Regions from separate parts of the Homo sapiens genome. Here region 1 is linked to region 2. Evidence: fine-mapped expression QTL. A gene starts in region 2. The other region holds a variant in brackets. All regions are shown on one strand. Distances are between the middles of the regions.

The links. PIP is the estimated chance that this variant, and not a neighbour inherited with it, causes the effect.
Region 1: its variant is the best candidate, but not a certain one, in a credible set for the expression of SMG1 in whole blood (INTERVAL, PIP 0.78).

Annotation. Positions count from the first base shown.
Region 1 is chr16:18,948,239-18,951,140 of GRCh38, forward strand. No RefSeq gene overlaps it. Among named protein-coding and RNA genes, the nearest start is that of SMG1, 23 kb to the left of the region's middle. The variant G/T (reference allele first, on the strand shown) is at 1,494.
Region 2 is chr16:18,925,130-18,927,983 of GRCh38, forward strand. It overlaps SMG1 (SMG1 nonsense mediated mRNA decay associated PI3K related kinase), which reads right to left and starts at 1,279. Exons shown (of 63, transcript NM_015092.5): 1 at 821-1,279. The coding sequence starts at 912. It overlaps SMG1-DT (SMG1 divergent transcript), which reads left to right and starts at 1,058. Exons shown (of 2, transcript XR_001752094.2): 1 at 1,058-1,145. RefSeq lists silencers at 501-1,090, 1,121-1,460 and enhancers at 1,146-1,758, 1,759-2,372.

The sequences.
Region 1 (2,902 bases), 23 kb after region 2:
CGCTGCGCGTACTAGACCACACTGGTTCTCAAACTCTCCTGCCCACTTGAATCACCTGCGGGATGTGTAAAAACTACTGATGCCTGAGTCCTATCACCAGATTCTGATTTAATTAAGTGTGATTGAAGCCTGAGCATTAGAATTTCTCAAAGCTGCCAAAGAAATCCTAGTGTGAGGTAAAGTTTGAGATACACTGCCTTAGACTAGAGCAGTCACTCTCAAACTTTTGTGTACACAAAGTTACCTGGAGAGTTTGTTACAAAAAAACCCAAAAACCCACAAAGCAAAACAAACAAACAAAAAAACCACACAGATCGCTGGGATCCACCCTCCTGAGTTTCCGACTCATCAGGTCTGGGTAGGGCTTGAGAATCTGGCTTAGGCTATAATGCAGTGGTGCCATTATAGCTCACTGTAGCCTTGAACTCCTGGGTTCCAGTGATCCTCCTGCCTCAGCCTCCCAAAGTAGCTGAGACCACGGGCACATGCCACCATGCTAAGTTTTTATTTTTATATTTTTATTTTTTAGAAACCAGGTTTTGCTGTGTTGCCCGGGCTGGTCTCCAACTCTTGGCTTCAAGCGATCCTCCTGCCTCCCAAACTGCTGGGATTACAGGCATGAGCCAATTTTTTTTTTTTTTTTTTAGTAGAGACAGGATTTTACCTTGTTGGCAAGGGTGGTCTCACCCACCCAAGAATTTGTATTTTTAACAAAGTGTGGCTGGGCGCGGTGGCTCACGCCTGTAATCCTACCACTTTGGGAGGCCGAGGCAGGTGGATCACCTCCCCTGAGGTCGGGAGTTCGCGACCAGCCTGAGCAACATGGAGAAACCCCGTCTCTACTAAAACTACAAAATTAGCCAGACGTGGTGGTGCATGCCTGTAATCCCAGCTACTCAGGAGGCTGAGGCAGGAGAATCGCTTGAACCCGGGAGGGGGAGGTTGTGGTGAGCCGAGATCATGCCATTGCACTCCAGCCTGGGCAACAAGATCGCAACTCCGTCCCAAAAAAAAAGAAGTGTGGCTGAATCTGCCAGTTCTGGTGATCACACTTTCAGAAATACTTCCTTGGGCAGGTAAAATTATGTAATGCAGTGTTCAAAATGGGAGAACAATTATTATTATTATTATTATTATTTTGGCAGGGAGGACAGGTTCTCACTCTGTTGCCCAGGTTGAGAGTATTATAGTTCACTGCAACCTGGAACTCCTAGGCTCAAGGGATCCTCCTCCCACCTCAGCCTGCTGAGTATCTGGGACTACAGTTGCACACAACCTCACCCTGCTCTTTTGTTTTTCTCATTCCTTCTTTCTTTCTTCCTTTTTTTTTTTTTTTTTGTGACAGGGTCTTTCTCTGTCACCTAGGCTGGAGTGCAGTGGCGTGATCTCGGCTCACGCAACCTCTGCCTCCCAGATTCAAGCGATTCTCCTGCCTCCACCTCCCGAGTAGCTGGGACCACAGGTGTACATCACCATGCCCGGATAATTTTTTT[G/T]TGTGTATTTTTAGTAGAGACAGGATTTCACCTTGTTGGCAAGGCTGGTCTCAAATTCCTGAACTCAGGTGATTTGCCCACCTTGGTTTCCCAAAGTACTGGGATTACAGGCATGAACCACCACACCCAGTTTTGCCCTGCTAATTTAAAAAATGTTTTTGTAGAGATGGGGCCTCACTATGTTGCTCAGGCTGGTCTTGAACACATAGGCCTCAAGCAATCCTTCCACCTCAGCCTCCCAAAGTGTTGGGATTACAGGCATGAGCACACAGTGCCTAGCCTATTATTATTATTTTTATTGAGCAGACTCCTGAACCAGAATAGGTTCAGAGAGACTTTTTAATTTTTTTAACTGTATGATATCTCTCAGTTATGGCAGTGTAACTTGTGTCACTGAATTTCCAAAGTATACCTTTTTTTTTTAACTGTGCTTCAAATAAATAGAAAAATAGTTATAGGCTGGGTGCAGTGGCTCATACCTGTAATCCCAACACTTTGGGAGACTGAGGCAGGAGGGTCACTTGGGGCCAGGAGTTCAAGACCAACCTGGGCAACATAGCAATAACCCATCTCCAAAAAAAAAAACCAAACAAACAAACAAACAAAAAAACAAACACTAGCCAGGTGGGATGGTGTGTGCCTATAGTCCCAGCTACTGGAGAGGCTGAGACAGGAGGATCACTTGAGCCCAGGGGGTTGAGGCTGCAATGAGCCATGATCACACCACTGCACTCCAGCCTGGGTAACAGAATGAGACCCTGTCTTGTGGCTGGGTGCAGTGGCTCACGCTTGTAATCTCAGCACTTTGGGAGGCCGAGGCAGGTGGATTACAAGGTCAAGAGATCGAGACCATCCTGGCCAACATGGTGAAACCTTCTCTCTACTAAAAAAATACAAAAAATTAGCTGAGTGTGGTGGTGCGTGCCTTGTAGTCCTAGCTACTCGGGAAGCTGATGCAGCAGAATCGCCTGGACCCAGGAGGCAGAGATTACATTGAGCTGAGATTGCACCACTGCATTCCAGCCTGGCGACAGAGCGAGACTCTGTCTCAAAAATAAATAAGTAAATAAAATACAAATAAAAAAATAAAAAAAGAGACCTTGTCTCAAAAAAAGAAAAAGAGAAAGAAAAAGAAAAACTTAAAAAAGAAACACAATTATATAGATGAAAAAAAAGAACCACTTCCTGTGGGCTGATGAAGAGGTGAGGGACCTCATAGACAGCAGCTGTGTTACCAAAGGGAAGACCAAGGGGAGGCCACTGATCTTCACTTAAGAAAGTATAAATTGTCAGTGTCCAGACGCTGCATTGGCCATCCTTCTCTTGCCACCTGGGGAGAAGTGTCTACCAACTGTAGCCAGCCTGTGGTCCTCTATTTATGCCACAGGACTTGCCAGCTCTCCAATCTA
Region 2 (2,854 bases):
GCACAGCTGCCCTCCCATTGATCAAAAAGACAGGAAACTACATTTATTTAAAAAGTTAATGTTCCTAATATATTCAAATCTCACTAAGCCCCAAAACGGTCTGAGATCAAATCCTCCATAAATGAGGAAATTCTCTAGACTTCTAAGTGGGTGCCCAAAGAGTTCACTCAAGTGTCCAGGTATGAATTACGATTCACCAGAGTAACCGGCCTTGCACTTAGGGAAAACTTCCATCGCCCAAGACCAGCGTGGGTCGATCCCATCAACAGTCACACAATCTCATCTCATGCTCCACTAATGAATGTTCTGCCTAGAGTCAGAGCAATGCCTTAGCTGGAGTTTTGTTTTGTTTTTTTCAATATTAACACGTGGGGGTCACAGAAAGGAACAGAGGTTAGAAGAGCTCTCACGTGGCGGCTGAAAGAGTGGGGAACCGAGAAAGTGAATGAGTAACAGGGAGGGTCCTGGACTCTCAGCATCTCCCAACTCGGGGTCAGGGGGAGGCTGTAACTGGAATGCCCCCCACCCCCACCCCCGCCTCTTTCTCACCTCCTGGTCCCGACCCCAGGCCAGTGCCACCGCCGGGAGCCCCGGGTCTCGGCTCCAGCCCCGGGCTGAACAAGCAGGGAGGGGAGGCACTTAGGCCTCGCCTCCCCGCGGCCTTCCTCCCCCAGCCGGGGCGGAGGAGACCCAGGAAGCCGCGCCCGGCTCCGAGGGGTGGAGGGCCTAGGCCGCGCCTCCCAGCCCCGCGGCCCTAGGCCTCGGCCCGCCCGAGGCGGAGCCCGGGAGGTCGGGGCGGGGTCCCGGGCCGGTCACCCACCTGGGTTGCCAGTCATTCCAGCTCCGCGGATACTTGGTGCCGCCGCCGCCGCCGCCGCTGCTCAGCCGAGACCCCGGGGCTCTGCGGCTCATTACCTTCCCCGACACGACATGGCCAAGCGCCGCCGCCCAAAGAAGCGCGAGTCGCCGCCCGAACCGGCCGCCGCCGACACCCCGCTCCGGCCCGGGGCTGAGGAGGAAGCCGAGAAGGAGGAGGAGGAGGAGGAGGAGGAGAAGGAGGAGGCGGCGGAGGGCGGGGGAAGAGGACGGCCGTTCCGGGTTCCGCCTGAGCCCGCAGCGCAGGACGAGGAGGCGGGAGCGGCGCGGTGAGAGAGAGGCGGATGAAGGGGAGGCGACGTCTTTTCCAGGGCCGTGCGCGGCCCACGTCGCCGGGGCCCCGGAGGACGAGGACGACGAGGAGCAGGCGGTGGCGGCAGCTCCTCACGCTCACACGGCCACTGCTTCCCCGCCTCCCGGCTCCGCCCGCCGCGCCGCCGCTGTCGCACGGCATGCTGGGAGCGAGGGGCGGGGTTGGCGCCCGCCGGGCCTGGGGAGAGAGGCGGGTCCTGTCGGCGGGGCGGAGCCGAGAGAGGCGGGGTCGATAGCAGGCCGCCCCGCCCCCCACGTCCCCAGGCCCTTGGGCGGCGAAGAGGTCTGGGCGTAGCGGTGACGAATCCTAAGACAGGGGATCTCCACTACTGCGGCCACACACTTTTCTCCCAAACGCTTCCCGGAAAGCACCGGAGGGCCGGGCAGTCAGGTGTAAACAGGCGTCCAATCAAGGACCTGCGGTGTGGGTGGGGGCTGGTGCCCTGCGGTGCGCGCGCACACAGGCGTGCCCTTGGATTCACGTGCGCCAGTTTTCCCACTTTCTACGGGGTGGGGTGGAAAGTGAAAATAGTAAGATCGAGAGGTGGATATCCACCTTCCCAACCTCCACCTGAAATGTGCCCATCGAGTCCTGGCACCTTTTACCATTTCTTCACAATGAAAAAAACTAAACGATGGAAGGGAAGGGAGTACCCACGATCACCAAACCCTGTCCTCTGCAATGTGAAATGTGCTTTGAAGTCCTTTCACCCTGAGGCTTGCCCGCCTTCTGCTGGTGAAAGAAGCTGGGGGCTAGGCGCGGTGGATCACGCCTGTAATCCCAGCACTTTCGGAGGCCGAGGTGGGCGGATCGTCTGAGGTGAGGAGTTCCCGACCAGCCTAGCCAACATGGAGAAACCCCGCCTCTACTAAAAATACAAAAATTAGCCGGGCATGGTGGAGGGCGCCTGTAATCCCAGCTACTTGGGAGGCTGAGGCAGGGGAATCGCTTGAACCCAGCAGGCCGAGGTTGCAGTGAGCCGAGATCAGACCATTGCAGTCCAGCCTGGACAACAAGAGTGAAACTCTGTCTCAAAAAAATAAAAGAGAGAGAGAAAGGAGGGAGGGAAGAAAAAGGAAGGAAGGAAGGGAGGAAGGAAGGAAAGGAAAGGAAAGGAAAGGAAAAAAGAAAAGAAAGAGAGAAGGCCGGGCGTGGTGGATCACGTCTGTAATCCCAGCACTTTGGGAGGCCGAGGCGGGCGGATCACGAGGTCAGGAGATCGAGACCATCCTGGCTAACACGGTGAAACCCCGTCTCTACTAAAAATACAAAAAATTAGCCGGGCGTGGTGGCGGGTGCCTGTAGTCCCAGCTACTCCTGAGGCTGAGGCAGGAGAATGGCGTGAACCCGGGAAGCGGAGCTCACAGTGAGCAGAGATGGCTCCACTGCACTCCAGCGTGGGCGACAGAGCAAGACTCTGTCTCAAAAAGAAAAAAAAAACAAAGCAGCAGCTGGGTAGAGGAGACGTACCCGACCGTCTACCCCATGACGTGTCCCATGCCCCAGGGAAAAAAGTTCCCTAAAGCATCTGATGCATAACGTGAATGCACACACGTTTTTTAAAAGTTGGGCCAGGATGCTCCTTAAACGAGTGTCTAAACCGTATCTGCATAAGGAGTCATAACCTATCATTTTATGTTGCAAAGAAAACGTCTTTATATATCG